Homo sapiens: one gene and its partners. The protein of the gene in region 2 interacts with the protein of the main gene of each other region in a biochemical or structural test. Each region holds a gene or a part of one and is shown on either strand. Other genes may lie near its edges.

The links. The genes of interacting proteins can lie anywhere in the genome.
Region 1: of the proteins of PPM1D (region 2) and CHEK2, one has a biochemical effect on the other in vitro, tested with the Homo sapiens proteins (2 studies listed by BioGRID, with this or other methods).
Region 3: of the proteins of PPM1D (region 2) and H2AX, one has a biochemical effect on the other in vitro, tested with the Homo sapiens proteins (3 studies listed by BioGRID and IntAct).

What each region holds. Positions count from the first base shown.
Region 1 is NC_000022.11:28,731,821-28,738,820, forward strand, and holds part of CHEK2 (serine/threonine-protein kinase Chk2), read right to left. Parts: exon of another isoform or gene 5,464-7,000; coding exon of another isoform or gene 5,440-5,463; intron 2,908-5,439; coding exon of another isoform or gene 2,902-2,907; coding exon 2,583-2,901; intron 1-2,582. UniProt on the Homo sapiens protein: Serine/threonine-protein kinase which is required for checkpoint-mediated cell cycle arrest, activation of DNA repair and apoptosis in response to the presence of DNA double-strand breaks.
Region 2 is NC_000017.11:60,596,127-60,603,261, forward strand, and holds the start of PPM1D (protein phosphatase 1D), read left to right. Parts: upstream 1-4,066; 5' UTR 4,067-4,288; coding exon 4,289-4,760; intron 4,761-7,135. UniProt on the Homo sapiens protein: Involved in the negative regulation of p53 expression. Required for the relief of p53-dependent checkpoint mediated cell cycle arrest.
Region 3 is NC_000011.10:119,093,374-119,099,864, forward strand, and holds H2AX (histone H2AX), read right to left. Parts: upstream 2,093-6,491; 5' UTR 2,022-2,092; coding exon 1,590-2,021; 3' UTR 501-1,589; downstream 1-500. Other genes in the region: DPAGT1 (UDP-N-acetylglucosamine--dolichyl-phosphate N-acetylglucosaminephosphotransferase), read right to left, coding at 3,625-3,924, 4,091-4,178, 4,482-4,670, 5,030-5,114. UniProt on the Homo sapiens protein: Variant histone H2A which replaces conventional H2A in a subset of nucleosomes. Nucleosomes wrap and compact DNA into chromatin, limiting DNA accessibility to the cellular machineries which require DNA as a template.

The DNA.
Region 1 (7,000 bases), on a different chromosome or scaffold from region 2:
CCCAGCCTCTTTGTTTTCTTACTTTTAAAGGTGATGTATCCCATTTAGCCCTTTCTCACCATTTCTATTTCTCACTCATCTAAACCTATAGGCCTATCTGAAAAAATATATTGTATTTTATTTATTTGTTTATTTTTTGGAGACGGAATCTCGCTCTGTCACCCAGGCGGGACTGCAGTAGCGCAATCTCAGCTCACTGCAACCTCCACCTCCCAAGTTCCAGCAATTCTCCTGTCTCAGCCTCCTGTGTGGGTGGGATTACAGATGCCTGCCACAACGCCCCGCAAATTTTTTTTTCTTTTTTTTTTGAGATGGAGTTTCGCTCTTGTTGCCCAGGCTGGAGTGCAATGGCGAGATCTCGGTTCACTGCAACCTCTGCCTCCCAGGTTCAACCGATTCTCCTGCCTCAGCCTCCTGAGTAGCTGGGATTACAGGAGCCCGCCACCATGCCCAGCTAATTTTGTATTTTTAGTAGAGACAGGGTTTCTCCATGTTGGTCAGGCTGGTCTCGAACTCCCGATCTCAGGTGATCCGCCCATCTCGGCCTCCCAAAGTGCTGGGATTACAGGCATGAGCCACCACGCCTGGCCTAATTTTTGTATTTTTAACAGAGACAGGGTTTCCCCATGTTGGCCAGGATGGCCTCAAACTCCTGACCTCAGGTGATCCACCTGCCTTGGTCTCTCAACGTGCTGGGATTACAGGCATGAGCCACAATGCCCGGTCTGAAAAATATATTTTAAATCAGTTAAAAATAGCTTCGAGTGTCTACTTATAAATTTAAAGTTGTATATGTGGAATGCAGGTATATTCCTCCATTTTTTATAGTTTTTTCAAGATATCAAAGTTAGACATGAAATAAAACAAGGATGGTGAGTGACAAAACACAAAATGATACATCAGTCCTTCATTTCTTTATATTAACATATTCTATCCTGTTAATGCCAAGTTCAAATTTGTTTATTAAAGAGGTCATTGCAATGTAAGCGAAAGGAAAAAAAACACTATTTTTTTTGGCCGGAGTGCAGTGGTGCAATCCTGGCTCATTGCAACCTCTGCCTCCCAGGTTCAAGCAATTCTCATGTCTCATCCTCCTGAGTAGCTGGGATTGCAGACATGCGCCACCACACCTGGCTAATTTTTGTATTTTCAGGAGAGACAGGGTTTTGCCATGTTGCCCAAGCTGGTTTCGAACTCCTGGCCTCAAGTGATCCTCCCGCTTTGGCCTCCCAAAGTGCTGGGATTACAGGCGTGAGCCACCATGCCTGGCAATGTTAAAATACACACATGTGTATTTTAAACATATGCAGAGCAAAACTTACTATTGGAACCAGGAGGTGTCAGAAAGGGTCAACATGTTTAAATCACAAGGTTGGCTATTTTGAGACAAAAACAAGTAACAAGTAGTCAACAAATGGCCATCTCTATTCTGAACAGCTCTGATTCTCTGAAGCTGTGGCAAACCACAGCAGAGGTTAACTAGTGAAGCTTTTGTGATTAGGGGATAATGTTTGCAAGTTTGAGTGAATCTGCATTTTTCTAGGAAGAGGGTCCAAAGCTACCTTCAGATCTTTGGATGGACAGCACATTGTAAATGTCCAATTATTATTTGTTGAAAGAGTAAATGAACAGAATCCACAGCAGGTAACAGCCAGGGCAACACCCAATACTGCCTCTTTGGTTTTACCTTTTATCACATTCAAACTCCAGAATTATTCTAAGAGTGGCTCAAGCATTCTGCTGCAACTAACTAAGGCAGGAAAATAGGGTCTGAAGGCAGGGAATCTATGGCCAATTCACGCAAACTTCCTGGAATAGATGGGCACGGTTGCTCATGCCTGTAATCCCAACACTTTGGGAGGCCGAAGCAGGAGGATCACTTGAGGCCAGGAGTTCGAGACCAGCCTGGCCAACGTGGTGAAACCCCGTCTCTACTAAAAATACAAAAATTAGCCAGGTGTGGTGGTGTGTGTCTGTAATCCCAGCTACTCAGGAATCTGAGACAGGAGAATCGCTTGAACCCAGGAGTCAGAGGCTGCAGTGAGCCGAGCCGAGATGGCGTCACTGCACTTGTCTGTGCGACAGAGCAAGACTCCGTTGCCAAAAAAAAAAAAAAAAAAATTCCTGAAACTAAACAAAAAAGGAAGAATTTGCACTCTGGCCTATGATCCGTCCATTCTAGGACCTTCATTTGCATAAGGCGTCAATCCACACCAGTCTTGGAATGGCCGAGCTCCAATTCACTTTGGCCTCTAATGGGCTGTGAGCCAGCACTTCATTTACATAGGATGTAAACAGTGGGAGACCTCTAGAGGGTACTTGAACCCCAGAAGACTTTGCTACAAGGGCTCTGCAGCCACTTGCTCAGGCCTGCTCCCATCCTGTGACATGTACTTTAGCTTCTATTGCCTTCCACTTCAATAAATCTATGCTTTCATTGCTTGTTCATGCATGATGTTCAATTATTTGTTCAACGTGCCAAAAACCTGGACAACTCCAATCAGAACCTTCCACCTGGTAATACAACTTTCTGTAAGTGTTTTTCTGAACAAAACGTGATACTATACAACAAAGGGTCTTACCAAGATTGGCAAATCCATCCTGAAGGGCCCATAATCGAGCCCAGGGGGCAGGGGTAGGCTCCTCAGGTTCTTGGTCCTCAGGTTCTTGGTCCTCAGGAATAGAATAGAGTTCCTGAGTGGACACTGTCTCTAAGGAGCTCAGTGTCCCAGAGCTGGAGTGAGAGGACTGGCTGGAGTTTGGCATCGTGCTGGTAGAGGAGCTGGATATGCCCTGGGACTGTGAGGAGGAGCCTTGGGACTGGGTAACGCTGCCATGGGGCTGTGAACAGGCACTGCTGCCATGAGACTGCTGAGCCTCAACATCCGACTCCCGAGACATCACGACCTCAAAAAGAAAGTGTCCAACAACAAAGGTGAGTTTCAAGGCACAAGACTTAAAATTAAAAAGTAAATGATGGGCCTATTACAACAGCAAAAGAAAAGAAAAAAAAAAAAACAGGGCAAACATGCTCTCCAAAAATTAAAAGTCCTAACAGCCCAGACCTATAGTTCTTCTGGGCTGAGCTTTTCACCAGATCATTGTCACCAGATCAGTTTTTTATCTGACAGCCATAAACTACAGGGAAAAACAAATTATCTGAAGGTTACAAATAAGTAAAAAGCAATAAAATTGAGCTGGGGGGCTCATAAAAGCTTACATTTGTCCAATTCTTTTAAATTAAGACTGAAACCAAAAATGTACTGATACAATCAACACTACATTTAAATTTCATATATACAGGGGGCCAGGCGCGGGGGTTCACTCCTGTAGTCCCGCACTTTGGGAGGACAAGACGGGCAGATCATGAGGTCAGGAGTTCAAGACCAGCCTGGCCAACATAGTGAAACTCCGTCTCTACTAAAAATACAAAAAATTAGCCAGGCGTGGTGGCGGGCACCTGTATTCTCAGCTACTCGGGAGGCTGAGGCAGGAGAATCGCTTGAGCCCGGGAGGCAGAGGTTGCAGTGAACCAAGATTGCACCACTGCACTCCAGCCTGGGCAACAGTGCAAGACTCCGTTTCAAAAAAAAAAACTCATATATACAGTCCTCAATTTAACAATGCTTCTATTTAACAATGTTTAGACTTTCTGTGAAAGCAATCAGTAGACACTTACTTCTCCAAGTCCTCACATAACCATTCTGGTTTTCACCTTCAGTACAGTATTCAAGTAATTACATGAGATATTTAACACCTTATTATAAAATAGGCCAGGTGGCCAGGTGCAGTGGCTCACACCTATAATCCCAGAACTCTGGGGGGTCAAGGCAGGTAGATCACCTGAGATCAGGAGTTCAAGACCAGCCTGGCCAACACAGTCAAACCCCGTGTCCACTAAAAATACAAAAATTAGCCGGGTGTGGTGGCAGGCGCCTGTAGTTCCAGCTACTCAGGAGGCTGAAGCAGGAGAATTGCTCGAGCCCAGGAGGCAGAGGTTGCACTGAGCTGAGATCGCGCCACTGCACTCCAGCCTGGGTGACAGGAGTGAAACCCTGTCTCAAAAAAATTAATTAATTAAATAAATAAAATTTTAAAATAAAATAAAATAGGCCAGGTGCAGTGACTCACAACTGTAAACCCAATATTTCGGGTGGTGGAGGTAGGAGGATTGCTTGAGGGCAGGTGTTTGAGACCCCACCTCTACAAAAAATAATAACAATAATCTTTGTGTTAGATAATTTTGCCCAACTGTACCCTGACATAAGTGTTCTGAGCATGTTTAAAGGAGGCTAGGCTAAACTATGACGTTTGGTATCTTAGGTGTATTAAATGTAATTTCAATTTAACAATATTTTCAACTTAGAATGGTTTTATTTAGACATAATGCCATTGAAAGTTGAGGAGCATCTGTGTACTTTGGAAAGCAAAAGAAGACAAAAAATCAGGTGGCTTGATATAAAAGTCAAAAAGAAATTGTACAATAACCTGCTGCATTACTCCAAAGGGTCCATTTACATAAAATGTCACTGGTACCCCTTTTCCCCCAGGCTTGCTCCTAAAGTGAAACACACCTGTTCGTTCAATCTATATTCCCTGACACCTAAGGACCCAGTGACTTAATGAGGCAGAACACAAAGGAAGACAGCTCTTAACAACTCCACCTATCCCTTTGTGATGCTAAATAACCATAGGGCTTATCTTTTCAGCATCCTAAATGGCCTTCCGGCCTTGATGTAATCTTGCAGGAACCATTCTTTTATAAACTGGAGACCGTAACAGAGGCTTCCACCCTTGTCTTAGAATTAACCTGATAGACAGTTAGACTGTCATAACAGGCTGGGTGCAGTGGCTCATACCTGTAATCCCAGCACTTTGGGAGGCCAAGGCAAGAGGACCACTTGAGGCCACGAGTTCAATACCAGCCTGGCCAACATAGTGGGACCCCCCCCGCCCCCCGTACAAAAAATAAGAAAATTAGACATGATGGCATGCAGCTGTGGGCTCAGCTACTCAGGAAGGTGAGGTGGGAGGATCACTTGAGCCCAGGAGTTGAAGGCTGCAGTGAGCTATGATCATACCACTTACATACCAGCCTGGGTGGCAGAGTGAGACCCTATCTCCAAAGAACAGAAAACAAACCAAGACTCTGATAACAGAACCACCAGTAAAATCAAAGTAACATCCACTGCTGACCTAATCGGATTAACAAAAAAAAGGGAGGGAGAGGAGGGCATTCTCTTCCTCCCCAAACTCAGGCTACTACTCTAGGAGAACATAGGAAACAACACTATAGTAGTCCCCACCATCAGAGGGGGATAAGATCCAAGACCCCCCAGTGGATGCCTGAAACCTCGCATAGTACAGAACCCTATATAAATTATGCACAACTTTCTTTTTCCTTCTTCACAATTTCACAAATAGAAGATTAGTTCTTACCATAGACGTTAGCAGCCTCAGCATACAAATTTTTTTATTTCCATATTAAATTGAGATCTTTCACCTTTTCAGTAAAAGGAAACACTTTACAGCTTCTCTTTACAATATCCAAATTGCCAGCATCTTTTGCTTTGGGGCCATTATTAAATATAAGGGTGACATGAACACAAGCACTGCAAAACCATGTAATTTAAGACTTATGAACTGATTATTTCTTTTTTTTTTTTTTTTTGAAACGGAGTCTCAGTCACCCAGGCTGGAGTGCAGTGGCACAATTTTGGCTCATTGCAACCTCCACCTCCTGGGTTCAAGCAATTCTCCTGCTTCAGCCTTCCAAGTAGTTGGGATTACAGGCGCACACCACCATGCCCGGCTAATTTGTATATTTTTTTTAGTAGAGACAGGGTTTTCACCGTATTGGCCAGCCTGGTCTCAAACTGCAGACCTCAGGTGATCCTCAGGTCCACCTCAGCCTCCCAAACTGCTAGGATTACAGGCCTGAGCCACCATGCCCAGCCATGAATTGACTATTTCTTATGAATTTTCCACTTAATAGTTTCAGATCGCAGCTGACCATTGGTAAGTGAAACTACTACCGCTGATAAGGAGGGACTAAGATACCCACACTGATTGTATTTACACAGCTTTCAAGATACAAAGGTTCTGCCAGGTGTGGTGGTTCATGTCTGTAATCCCAGCACTTTGGGAGGCCAACGCAGGTAGATTGCTTGAGCCCAGGAATTCAAGACCAGCCTGGGCACCATGGTGAAATCCAGTATCTACAGAAAATACAAAAAATTAGCAGGGCATGGTGGTGTGCACCTGTAGTCCCAGCTACTTGGGAAGCTGAGGTGGGAGGATCACTTGAGTCCAGGAGGTTGAGGCTGCAGTGAGCCGTGATCGAGCCTGCACTCCAGCCTGGGTGACAGAGCGAGACCCTGTCTCAAGGAAAATAAAAAAGATACAAAGGTTCTGATGAGTTTTCTTTAAAACATACCAGGAAGGCAATGCCAAAACTGAGTATGCCACACCAGGGACTGCTGGTCTAATACTACCTGAGCCAGGCTGAGTCTTCCCCACAGCTTTTTAAGCAAGACAGGACAACTGGAGAAAATGTGTCAACAAGTTACTATGAGAGATTAGAGGCAAGCGGATCTGGAGTCAGACACTTGAGTGAAACTGTGCATGACTTTAGGTAGATCACAACTTCTCTAAACCTGTTTTCTCATCTGAAAATAAGTAGACAGACCATGAGGATTAAGTGAAGTGACGCATGTAATACTCCCCCCACCCACCCATGCTTGCTATCTGGGAGCTATTGCTATTGGAAAGCCATGCAGAGAAGTGAGTGAAAAACCAAAGTGAGGGCAGCAAAACTCCAGGACTGTAGACAGAAATCCAGTCCCAAAACCTATAAAACTACTAGAAGAAAACACTGGGGAAGTGCTCCAGGACACTCATCTTGGGCACAGGTTTTTTGGGCACAGGGTTTTTACGTAAGACCTCAAAAGCACAGGCAACTAAAGCAAAAACAGACAACTGGGATTTCATCAAGCTAAAA
Region 2 (7,135 bases):
CGGTGGCTCACGCCTGTAATCCCAGCACTTTGGGAGGCAGAGGCGGGCGGATCACGAGGTCAGGAGATCGAGATCATCCTGGCTAACATGGTGAAACCCCGTCTCTACTAAAAATACAAAAACTAGCCTGGCATAGTGGTGTGTGCCTGTAATCCCAGCTACTCGGCAGGCTGAGGCATTAGAACTGCTTGAACCCGGGAGGCAGAGCTTGCAGTGAGCTGAAATCACACCACTGCACTCCAGCCTGGGCGACAGAGTGACAGTCTGTCTCAAAAAAAAAAAAATAATAATAATAAATAAATAAAAATTAAAACATAAAAAATATTCTAATATCTGTAGGACAACTAATCACCTTCTTTTTCAACATCTTGGCTATTCTTATCCATTTTCTCTTCCAGATAAATGTTGGAATCAACTTGTCAAGTAAAAAAAAAAGAATCCAGTTGGAATTTTGATTAAAGTTATATTTGTAGATTAATTTGAGACCAATTGAGTTGTTTTCTCATCTAGAAACATGGTATGTTTTTACATTTATTTAGGACTTATTTTTTCTTTAGCAACGTTTCCTGGTTTTCCTCATATTAATTTTATACATTTCGTGCTGAGTAAATTAATTAATCAACTCACTCAACAACTCTTTGTCCGAGGCTCAGAGTGTACAGCAATGAACAAGGCAAGTTCCCTGTTCTCATGGAGCCTATATTCTAATTGGGACAAATAAACAAAAAAGATCAGCTAGTGAGTAGTCCTCTGCAGATAATTAAAATAGGGTTATGTGATAGAGAGATATTGGGTGGCTACGTTAGATTGGGTGGTTAAGAAAGTCCCTTAATATTTCAACTGAGATCTGAGTAGCAAGAAGAATCCAGCTTTGTAAAGCTGCTGGGAGTGGGGATGGCATTTCAAGGAGAGGGAACCGCTAATGAAAAAAAAAAATCACTAAGTCTCCTAATAGTTTGATATTTTCTGTTCAAGGAACAGAAAAAAGGCCAGTGAAGCTAGCGGTGAGTGGTGAAGGGGAAAGTGTTATGAAAAGATGTTAGACAAACATTTAGGGGCCAAACAGATGATTCAGGCCTTCATAAGGAGTTTGCATATTATTTTATTTTTTTGAGACAAAGTCTCTGTTGCCCAGGCTTCAAGGTAGTGGTGTGATCTGAGCTCACTGCAGCCTCTGCCTCCCAGGTTCAGGTGATTCTCCTGCCTCAGCCTCTCCCCCTAGTAGCTGGAACTACAAGTGCACGCCACCATGACTGGCTAATTTTTGTATTTTTAGAAGTGACAGTGTTTTGCCATGTTGGCCAGGCTGGTCTCCACTCCTGGCCTTAAGTGATCTGCCCGCGTTGGCCTCCCAAAGTGCTGGAATAACAGGTGTGAGCCACTGTGCCTGGCCTACATTATATTAAATGTGATGGAAGCCATGTATTGAGTAAAAGAATGACTTGATCTGATTCATGGTTTTTGAAAGATCGCTATAGTACCTAGCGGAAAAAGGATAGCAGAGGGCCAAGAGTGAAAGAAAGATTTGTGAGGAGGCGAGTGTAGTGGTCCAGGTAAGAGGTAATAGTGGCCAGATATGGTGGCTCACACCTGTAGTCCCAGCTACTAGGGAGGCCGAGGCACGAGAATTCCTTGATCCCAGGAGGCAGAGGTTGCTAGTGAGCCGAGATCACGTCACTGCACTCCAGCCTGGGTGATGGAGGGAGACTCTGTCTCAAAAAAAAGAAAAAAAACAGAACATATTTATACACAAATGGAAATGACCCAGAAGAGGAGAAATTAGTCTGGGTGTGGTGACATGTGCCTTAATCTCAGCTACTTGGGGGCTAAAGTTGGAGGATCACTTGAGGTCAGGAGTTTGAGGCTGCAGTGAGCTATAATTGCGCCTGTGAATAATCACTGCACCCCAGCCTGGGCATCATAGACCCCGTCTTTAACATTTAGAAAGACAGAGAGAAAGGAGAGATTGATGAGGCAGGAGCAAGGAGGATAATTGTTGGAGCAGTAAAACTCTTGAAAAGGAGACAGTATGGAAGATATGGATAGTATCTTGAAAAATAAAGTGGATGAGAAGTGACACGAATAGTGGAAGAAACAAAGACGGTGGGCTATGAAAAATGATGGGGAGATACCAGGGATCAGTAGCTGACAGCATCTCAGAGTAGCAGCAGTCTGCATAAATTTTAAAAGCACTTGAGTTTCTGAGGGAGGAAGGAAGAGAAGTGGTTTGGAGGTAATATGAGGAATAGGCCACAGATAAGAATACCTATGAGAGGAAAAATAACCTCCTGTACTTGAAAAGTTGCAAGGGAGGTAGTTTTGCTAAGTGATAAACCGGGTTTCAGTTGGAATGGGAAGTTGATGGGAACATTTACAGAAGAGGCTAAGAATAAAGGGGAAGTGGTTGATGGCAGATGTTGAAATCAAAAGTGTGAAGTGAAATGGTTAGGATATTTGGTGAAGAGTGGGATATGGAATCAGAGTAATTGAAGCAGAGAGTAGCATGGAGATACTAGAGCAATAAACGGATGACGCAGATCCTACTGGTTGTGATTGAGGTGGAAAGGATTATAAAGCATGATGGAATTATCTTTTGGTAATCTCTTGGGTCAAACGTGGTGAACGGTAAGATGAATAATATAGAGCTACACAAACCGTTCTTGTGATATGGAGGCTGCTCCCTAATTACAATGCTAATATTTCATTTAGGATTTTTGTATTCATCGTTACAAAACAGGGTCTGTAGGTTTCCTTTTAGTGTTCATAATGCTTAGGTTTTACTAACAGGGTTATGATTACCTCTCCAAACAAGCTGGGATTTTTTTTTTCAAGCGTTTCCATGCCCTGGAACCATCTGGTCTAGTGCTTTTTGGGGTAATGAATATCTTCAATTGTATTTATTTTTACTTAGTTGATCTATTCAGATTTTCTACATTTTCTTGAGCTGATTTTGCTTATTTATATTTTTATTGATATAAAGATTTTTTCTATTTTTATTTCTTGTGCCAACTGTATGTACATTCCCCCCATTCCCGTTTCCATACTGTTTTTAGGCCATTTGAAAATCTCAAAGGTTTTACAGGAAAGTACAGATTGATGAAGAAATGGCCAAAAACGGGAAAAGTGAACTTTAAAGTGATTCAACTACAAAACGTATGCTACTGAGCAAATACTAGTGTATTCCTCGCTCTGCGGCTTAACTCCATGAAAATCCGTGCAAAGGTTTTAGCGTTGGGATTGTGACCGACTCGGTGAAGAGAGGGGACGATCACCAAACCGTTAGAGCACTGGGGCTCTTGGCAGTGTTTGTCAGTTATTTTCAAGTGATAACTTGAAGTGATACCGCAGGAATAAAATGCTGTATCCAGAGCTGGTCGGAACGAGCACTACCTTTAACAAAAGCTGAAAAGATCTGCCTAGGAATTCGTTAGAATACAGCCCTCTTACGTCTCTGACATACCTAGTTATGTGAACCGAGACTGTGCAGCTGACGGTGGAAATTTCCTAAGTGCTTTTTAAACAACAGAACTGGACTCCCTCCCTCCTCCATTCCCAGTCGAATACGTCCCACCCAGATCCAGCTCAAGGGTGCAGCACTTGTTCCGGCCAGCTCACAATCGCCCTTTGGAAGGGAGGTTTCCCGCCATTTCGCTTAGGAGGAGGGTGAACTCTTCTCCCTTCATTCTCCACTCGCTGGGGGCCCGAGCCCACACCACCTTCCTAGCAAAGCAAGCAGCGGGACGCCAAGGCCAGCAGGCCGCATTAAGAACGCTGGACTGAGCCAAAAGCCTACACAGACCAAGCCGCTCGGGAAAGGATCAACAACTGCCGACAACCCGGAGGGCGAAAACGCCCGCGGCGTAGGGGAAGCAAACTAGGAGATGCGCGGGCCCAGCGCCAGCGGCGGGAGGAGGCAGCGCGGCCGTCGCAGGCGGGAGCGAAGGCGGGGACGGAGGGCGGGCTCGCTCCACTCGACTCCGGATTGGTCGAGCTTAGAGAGCCGAGTGACGTCAGCGGGGGAGAACGCCTGATTTGTGTGGTGGGCGCGGGCGGTGGGGGGAAGCGCAGTGCGCAGGCGCAACTGCCTGGCTCTGCTCGCTCCGGCGCTCCGGCCCAGCTCTCGCGGACAAGTCCAGACATCGCGCGCCCCCCCTTCTCCGGGTCCGCCCCCTCCCCCTTCTCGGCGTCGTCGAAGATAAACAATAGTTGGCCGGCGAGCGCCTAGTGTGTCTCCCGCCGCCGGATTCGGCGGGCTGCGTGGGACCGGCGGGATCCCGGCCAGCCGGCCATGGCGGGGCTGTACTCGCTGGGAGTGAGCGTCTTCTCCGACCAGGGCGGGAGGAAGTACATGGAGGACGTTACTCAAATCGTTGTGGAGCCCGAACCGACGGCTGAAGAAAAGCCCTCGCCGCGGCGGTCGCTGTCTCAGCCGTTGCCTCCGCGGCCGTCGCCGGCCGCCCTTCCCGGCGGCGAAGTCTCGGGGAAAGGCCCAGCGGTGGCAGCCCGAGAGGCTCGCGACCCTCTCCCGGACGCCGGGGCCTCGCCGGCACCTAGCCGCTGCTGCCGCCGCCGTTCCTCCGTGGCCTTTTTCGCCGTGTGCGACGGGCACGGCGGGCGGGAGGCGGCACAGTTTGCCCGGGAGCACTTGTGGGGTTTCATCAAGAAGCAGAAGGGTTTCACCTCGTCCGAGCCGGCTAAGGTTTGCGCTGCCATCCGCAAAGGCTTTCTCGCTTGTCACCTTGCCATGTGGAAGAAACTGGGTAAGTTCCCTGGCTTGTTTGGCGCCCGCCCCTTTTTCAGGCAGTTCAGGGCTTTTATGGCACCAGCCCCGCGTGGGCCCCCGGCACCCAGAGCGCAACCAAAGTATACACTGATGGAAGTGACTAAAAGCTGTAATAGCGCTTTGCTGGGTGGAGGTCCGGGCAAACCAAGCGGCCTTGGGGAAGATAGGATTGCCGTCTCCCTGCAGCCTATTCTTGCTTTATTTCCATCCTCCAAGGATCAATGGGAAGCAGTCCACTCCCTTCCCTGCTTCACTTTGGTGGCAACCAGAGGAAACGTGTTTGAAACCTGGCGCCAGATTTTGGCCAAAAGATAAATCGATGTTGCACCTGGGCCAGGCGAAGGAAAAACTGTAGTGTTTCCTTAGAGAATCTGTCATAATTCTGCTCCTGAAAGTCTTATCCCTCTCGGTTGCCTCCTACCGGTGGTGTCAGTTCTCCAGATTGACCCGGGATTGCTGGGGTTGGTTGCTGGAGTAAAGCGTAAGCTAATTTAGAAGGGCTGAAACGTAACCATCCGGCAACTTAAAGTTTTGGAAGGAATTCCGTTGTAATGATGGTGAGATGTTTTTAGGATCATAAACCTGTACTGCTTATGAAAACTAAAAACGCGGAACGTGTTGTTACCTCTTAAAAACTGGCCCCGTGTTAAGGGTGTGCGTTAGATTCTGCTTGGGTTTTCTTTTTGGAAATTGCCTTAGCTGATTGCTTTCAGATAGTTCCCAACCGGTTGTTCCTAGTTTAAAAAGTACTTATAAATTGTAACTGCCCATCAAAATAAGAAAAGGCAAGGAATTACTGTATGCTAGAAGGAAATAAAGGTCTTAAATGTCTAAAAATTTCGGTGTAGTTGTAGTTTCATCTAAGTTTTTTTAAATGTTTGTAAAGCAGGCAGGATTTCTGTGCCCAACATTTACAGAATCATCTTACAGCATTATAATTGCTTATCTATTGCAGTGAATAAATGGCATGCATCTTTGTTAGAGCAAAGAAGACAATACTTCCAGTGGTGGGAAAAAACCTTGTTTATGGCAGCATAATAACGTTGCTTTATTTTCAGCAGAGGGATAGAGACATAGAGAAAAGAGTTAGATTTAGCAAATACAGAACATTTTTAGAAAGGTATTGTCATAGAGTTGTAGATTAGCCGGTTTCAAAGTCTGTTTTCCATTTGCTTGGCTTTCTGCCAAGAGTTAGTTGATTGACTCAAAAACCAGCCACTAGGCTTGTTGGAGGCGTTTCCCATCCATCCCAGGGGCCCCTCTTTATGGATTTATTTTGTTTTTGTGTAGGCACCGTAGAGCTGAAAGCACTGTAGTGTATTGTAGAAATATGTGATATCATTGACTGCAGGGCAACGAGAAGTCGACAGCAGCACAAGAGAGGAAGACTAGGCACAGAACTATTTAGAGTGCTGTTTATTTTGCAGTATACTTGGAGTAACATGAATTTGCCATATGTTTGAACTTTAAGGATAAAAAATCTTTAAGGTATAAACTCCGTTACATTAGTATTAAATTTTTTTTTTTTTAAGAGACGGGCAGGGGCGGGGGACGGGTGTGGGCCGCCTTACTTTGTTGCCCAGGCTGGGCAACAAGCGATCCTGGGCTCAAGCGATCCTTCCTCCTCGGCCTCCGAAAGTGCTGGAATTACAGGCGTGAGCTACCCTGCCGGACCTTCAGGAACATTTTTTAATAAAGCAGGGGCCATGCTGTTAAATGTAAATATGTATGGTTTAGTTTTACATACACAGACTTTTCGAATTAAGCTGTCACTCTTATGATGCATAAAGTTTAGAGCCTTATACTCCAGAAAAATGTTAAAGTTTGTTTTGTACCACAGCTAGACCTCAGACTTCGTCCTCAAAGCTTGAAAAAAAAAAAAAAAAAAAAAGTATGCTAATTATTTTGGGAGTCTTGACAAAGGAAACGAAGGTTTAAATTTTTTTTTCAATCACAAATTCTTGGATGGCTCCACATTTTCTGTAAAGTAAACTGTAGTTTGCAATCTGCAGGCCAACCCCTTTCCTGTACATATTCAGCCTCTCCAGTAAATTATATTTGTTACACGAATTTCCATTACATTAGTCTCTACTCACCTTTTTTCAGGACACATGGAAATACTCCATTTCCATTTTCTTGGATTCTGCCTCTCTCACCCTGCCCCCCCAACAAGGAAAACTCAAACAAAAATATATCCATCATGTAGATTCCCAGTCAGTATGTTTTCTTCTGTGAAGACTACTTTCTTTTGGAATTGAGCACCCTTTTTTCTACTTTTGTAGTGCTCATTGGATTGTAGTAATAGTTCTCAAACTTTTTGCTCTCAGAACCCTTTATATGCTTATTGAGGAC
Region 3 (6,491 bases), on a different chromosome or scaffold from region 2:
TGATTACCCCGGGAGACTGAACTGCAGGGTTCAAGCCTTCCAGGGATTTGCCTCACCTTGGGGCCTTGATGACTGCCTTGCCTCCTCAGTATGTGGGGGCTTCATCTCTTTAGAGAAGTCCAAGCAACAGCCTTTGAATGTAACCAATCCTACTAATAAACCAGTTCTGAAGGTGTTGTGTGTGCGCGTGTGGAGTTGGCGGGAAGATAGGAACAAACACAAAGCCCTTTCATCCTTACCTCAGAGGCTGGGACTTTTGCCCAGAGTTCTCCTGGTACGTCCTTTCTGCTTCTGCCTCAATAGTTTTCATTTCACACAGAATAAATTGTCTCCCAGGAACACCAAGAAACAGAGCCACAATCTTAAATTCCTATGGTTTGCCCCTTCAGTTAACAGTAGAGCCTGTTTATATTGCATGGCCCCTCCCACCCCTATTATCAGGAAAGTATAGAAAGTCACTAATTCTACAACTCTCTTGCAAAATGAAAACAAACGCTCCATTTAAAAAAAAAACAATCCTTTAATAAAATTAGTCCATCTAAAACTCCCCAATGCCTAAGGTTCTAGTCGTGGAAGGGTTAGCTGCAGAATTCCAGTTCAGAAGCCAACGGAGGCTCAGTCCAGACAGGGATTAACCGACTTGTGCTGGTATCTAGGTGCTTGGATTGCCGAGTTGAGTTTGCTGGAAGGGAAATGGGGCGGCGTCGGGGGGCCCGACAGGCCTGGCTGCCAGTCGGCTTCCGCGAAAACGACTCTTGCTGTCCACATAGCCAGCCGTGAAGCCAAACTGCAGGCCTCTGCCCTCCCCTAAATGTCCTCCTAGGAGGCAGTCACTCGGGAGGAAGATGTGCCTGTTACCAAGTGCTTCGTCCCGGCCCCAGCGCAGACCTATGAATGAAGATGGAGGGAGAGCTGATGTGAAAGGCCTGGGTCCCGGCCGCAGAAGGGGCGCCAGACCGAAATCGGCGATCGCGTCTCTCCCACCAAAGCCTCCCGGCCAGCGGCCGCGTCTGAAAGTCCTGGGCTAAGCACCACGCCGGGGGGGTACCAGACACCCCGGCTGCAGCTGCCGAGGGCCTCACTCACCTTCAGGGCCGCCGGCCTCTCGGCCTGGACTGCCCACCTCGGCCCTGCGTCAGAGCGGAAGGCCAAGTCTTCCAGAAGGTGCTGCGGCCTCCCCGCAGCCCCTTAGCGACTCGGGATGGGGCGGCTGAGTCACGAACGCCGAGGCGGGCAGGTGCGGCGCCGCCGGCCTCCCCCCGGCAGGCTCGGGTCTTCCGCGCCACGGAGGTCCCCGAAGAGCGCCCAAGCCGCATCCGGAAGGCCCGAACCCTACCGGAGGGCGGACGGCGGACAGGGCAGGGCCCGAGGCCGACGCGGCAGGCGGTGCGGGACGGGAGCGGGGGCGGGCGGGGACTCGAGGCCGGGCGGCGAAGGCGGGCGAGGGGAGGGGAGGGGAAGGGAGCCGCGGCCCGCTTGCCCCGCAGTCTGAAGCGGCTCAGCTCTTTCCATGAGGGCGGTGGTGGCCCTTAAAAGGGCCTTTGTGGTGGCATGGGGAGGCCTGGCGGCCGGCCGCGGCGCGGGCCCTCTTAGTACTCCTGGGAGGCCTGGGTGGCCTTCTTGCCGCCCGAGGGCGCCTTCGGCCCCACGGTGGCGCTGGTCTTCTTGGGCAGCAGCACGGCCTGGATGTTGGGCAGGACGCCTCCCTGGGCGATCGTCACGCCGCCCAGCAGCTTGTTGAGCTCCTCGTCGTTGCGGATGGCCAGCTGCAGGTGGCGGGGGATGATTCGCGTCTTCTTGTTGTCGCGGGCCGCATTGCCCGCCAGCTCCAGGATCTCAGCGGTGAGGTACTCCAGCACTGCCGCCAGGTACACTGGCGCGCCGGCGCCAACGCGCTCGGCGTAGTGGCCCTTCCGCAGCAGCCGGTGTACACGGCCCACTGGGAACTGGAGGCCGGCGCGCGACGAGCGCGACTTGGCCTTGGCGCGGGCCTTGCCGCCAGTCTTGCCGCGGCCCGACATGCTAGCGAGGTAGACCGGTGAAGCACGACGGCTCAAACACTAGAACAGACGCCCGCCGCAGTGTAACTGCTGTCGCGCGCGCGCCGCGAGGCCGCCTTTATAAGCCCCCAGGACACACCTCTGCGCCCTCCTGATTGGCTCTTTTCTCCAATACCCGCCTCCGGTTGGTTGCGGTTAACCCTTGGGTGTCGCGGCTCGGCTGAGGGAGCGCGCCCGCTGATTGGTCGAATTTGAAAACCTTTTGCCCGGGGAGAAAAGGCGAGGAGGAGGGGTAGCACGCAGACTGCCAACTATCCGCTGATGTAGCCAATCCTTGTAAAGCGCGCGAGATTTAAACACTACAATCGGAAACCAGAAGCGGAAGACCAAAGGGGTGGAGTCTGAGGCCACCTAGAGAGCGTCTGGGAAATCTGTGCCGGCGTAGGATTTTTAAAGGAAAGGGGTCAATATTATAGCTACTGCAGCCCTCCTTTCCAGGTCCAGTCACTCCCTACTCCCTTCTCCTACCTGACAAAGGGAGAATGGAAAAGTGAAGAAATTAGACCCCTTAAAAGTTTTCTTTTTTTTCTTTCTTTCTTTTTTTAATAGACCGGGTGTCACTGGCTCTGTCACCCAGGCTGGAGTGCAGTAGTGTGATCTCAGCTCACTGCAGCCTCGAACTCCTGGGTTCAAGGAATCCTCCCTGCTAAACCTCCCTCGTAGCTGGTACTACAAGTGCTCCACCACACTTGGCTAATTATTTTATTTTTGTAGAGACGGAGTCTCGTTTTGTTGCCCAGGCTGTCTTGAATTCCTGGGCTCAGGCAATCCTCCTGCCTCAGCCTCCTAAAGTGCTGGGATTACAGGCATGAGCCACTGCACCCGGTGACTCTTTGAAAGTTTGTTCCCATGCCAGGAAACAGGATAACTTCAATTTTGTGGCCCTCCATGCCACCTCTAGTATCAGGATTTAAATATTTATTCAATATGTTCTGTTTGGTCTCAGTTCTGTTCACTTCTTGTTAGACGGGGTCTGATGGGGCAGAGAGATAGGCATCCTGTTGGAGGAAGTACCCCCACCACCCCTCCCAATCTACCCAAAAATGCCCATATAGGAAATATACCTACATAAACAATAAGAAAAAGACAACACTTTATTGTCTCCATTGAGAGCATGTGGCCCCCTGCTTAGTTCTTACTAATCAGAACACTTAATTTACAATCAAATGACATGTCACCGTGGAGCCTGTGTTCCTAGCCCTGGCCCAAGTTCTATCCCAAAAACCAGTGGTTCCTTGAGAGTCAGGACTCTGAAATGTGAGTGTGGATAACTGCAAAAAAAGCTGCTGTATCCCACCCTATGAGGCTGCAAAGATGGGATGGAGAGGGAGAGAGTAGCAAGTTGCAGAAAGCCATAGGTAAAATCCAATCAGTAGTCAGCAGAGGGCAAGAAACGCCCAGGATGCCAATGATCACAGAGAAAGGAAAATGCTGAGAACAAAATCTGGAGGAGTATGAAGAGTGAGAGAGGCCTGGGCAAGGAGGCAGTCTGGGACCAGAGAGAGAGGTCAGCCTGAGTCAGGAATCCTAGAGACTGTGAGGTAAAGGACAATGATCAAGGGACTCAGACATCATAGAAGAGTCGAACGAGCTGATATCGAATGGAGAAGGTGATGGCACTGCCCAGGATCTGCAAGGAGAAATGGACTGGAGTAAGAATCACGCAGAAAGGGAGACACGGAGGTATAAACTCGATTCCCATCCTCACCTGCAGCAGCAGCAGGAGCAATGTGAGGTTTCTCTCATGTATGGGCCCAAGGACTTTAAGTAGCAAGTTGATGAGGGTCATGTTGTTACATTCAGTGAATTCACCATCTTCAGTCTCACTCTGGTGTACTGTCACCAGCTGGAGGCTCTCTGCCACCTGGAGGGACCAGAGGTGAAGAGAACCTCAGCTAATACCTATGCTTTAGGAATGTGGATCTATTTAATGCTTTCAAGTTCCCCTTGGATCTGATGTAGGACTAGGTTCCCCATTCCTCAAGGTCAGGATGGCAGCCTAGGGCCTTACCTCCTTGTTACCCTGTTACCTTTAAAATAAAGGTGCCCAAGAAAGAGAGGCTCTTGGTCTTGAACTTGGAATAGCTCATCTCCAGTTTGCCTGTCTTGATATTGAGTCTGCGGGGGGAAGATAGCTTCATGTGACTGGGCCACTATTTGAACCCTCCTCCCTGTGGCTAATAGGAAGAGCATTGAATGTGGAGTCAACCTGAGATCTATTTCTGGCTCTGCTGCTTACTGTTATCAGAACCACTGTAGCAGATTATGCAAATAAATGTGCTTTGTAAGTTATAAAGGGCTACTCACATGGAAATAGCCCTTCTTTGGGCCCACTCCCTTTGCACAGCAAATGTATAGGCTGGCATTAGATATCCCAAGTGAAAAGGCTATGATGTCCATTTCAAGCCAAAAAGCGGCTACCTGGGTATGCGGTGGCGAGGGCAGGGGATGATATGCAGGAGCTGAGGCAGTGAGTAGAGGAAGTTGAACACCTGGGGCATGAAGAATAGTAGCATGGTCTTGCTGAAGTGTCCCAAGATGCCCACCACGGCAAAGGTCATGCCAGCAAAGTAACAGAAGGTATCTCCCACAAACACCCGTGATGGGTACCTGTGTGGGGGAAGAGGATCCGAGCCAGTGGCAAGAGGCATTACCAATCCCTTCTCTCACATCACACCCTATGGGCACTGGACTAGCCCTGACCCTAGTTCTGACTCAGAGGAGACTCCAGTTGTGCAGCAACTCTGCAGGATCCAAGGCCCTGAATTCATCTATTCCTGGGGCCTCCACGCACTCATCCCTAACTACTACTGGGTAGAGAGAAATTTCAGAATACGACCAACTGAAGACGCAGAAAACTCCATAGAGGTATGCGCAGGTTTAGCTTCACCACCACAAGGTGGGTTATGATAAGGGCCATCTTTGCCATGTGTTCAGGTAGTTGTCCCCTTATCCACAGGCCTACTTACCAGTTGTGGTAGAGCAATCCCAAAGTGGTGAAAAAAAAGGGTATCATGAAGTAGAGGGAAAAGACATGATCATCCCGACAATCACCTTTGGAAGCAAGGAAGAAAGAAGGAAAAGTTAATACCCACTTCCTCTGCAAACCTTGGTCCTATTTTTGTCTAAGTTCTGTTTACAGCTGTTATCATCCACCTCACCCAAGTCACTTTTAAGAACTCAATACTCCTTTTATGTCACCCAAGGCAATTCCCAATATTCCACCTCTTTCGTGCAGCCTTCCAAACTAGTTACTATCTTAAATTTGGTTTAGCCCATTCTGATGTAAGTTTGGATACCAACTTTACTTCTTAGCTTTGTGACCTTGATCTTGATCATGACACATTTAACTTCTCTAAGCCTGTTTTCTCATCTGTAAAACAGGGCTGATTATAACATCTGCCACATAAAACCATTACAAGATTTAAATAAGATAGTGTTTAAAAAGTACTTAGCTTTAATAAACACTTGTTGATGTTCATCAGCCAAAGACCATCAGAAACACATCTATAGTTCAAAGCTAGGTTTAATGACTTGTTGTAAAAAGGGAGACTTCAGAAACCACACACCATTGGGAACCACGGAATGTCTCAGTAAGAGGGTGTTAGGAGGGGCTTGTAGTAGCGTTTGTTTTGGGTATTTTGGGAGAGGGTGAAAGAAAGTAGTTTTGCTCTGGACTGGGTGCTGTTAGAAAGCAGGAGTAATTCATGGCCGGGTGCGGTGACTCACGCCTGTAATCCCAGCACTTTGGGAGGCTGAAGCAGGCAGATCACCTGAGGTCAGGAGTTCGAGACCAGCCTGACCAACATGGAGAAACCCCGTCTCTACTAGAAATACAAAATTAGCTGGGCGTGGTGGCACATGCCTGTAATCCCAGCTACTAGGGAGGCTGAGGCAGGAGAATCGCTTGAACCTGGGAGGCGGAGGTTGCGGTGAGCCGAGATCGCACCATTGTACTCCAGCCTGGGCAAGAACAAAACTCCGTCTCAAAAAAAAAAAAAAAAAAAGAAAAGAAAAGAAAGCAAGAGTAATTCTATGATCAAGCATTTTAATGTTTATTTAAGAAATGGTAGGAACTGGCTGGGCACAGTGGCTCAAGAGTGTAATCCCAGCACTTTGGGAGGCCTGGCAGATCACTTGAGCCCAGGAGTTCAAGACCAGCCTAGGCAACATGGTGAAACCCTGTCTCTACAAAAAATACAAAAATTTGCCAGGTGTGGTGGCACATGCCTGTAGCCCCAGCTACTTGGGAGGCTGGGGCAGGAGGATCGTTTGAGTCAGAGGATGCAGTGAGCTAAGATCGCGCCACTGCTCTCCAGCCTGCATGACAGAGGGAGACCCTGTCTCAAAAAAAAAAAAAAAAAAAAAAAAAAGAAGTGGTAGGAACTGAGTTGTTATTGGAGAGCAGCAGCAGTCGCTCATGTTAGCCGA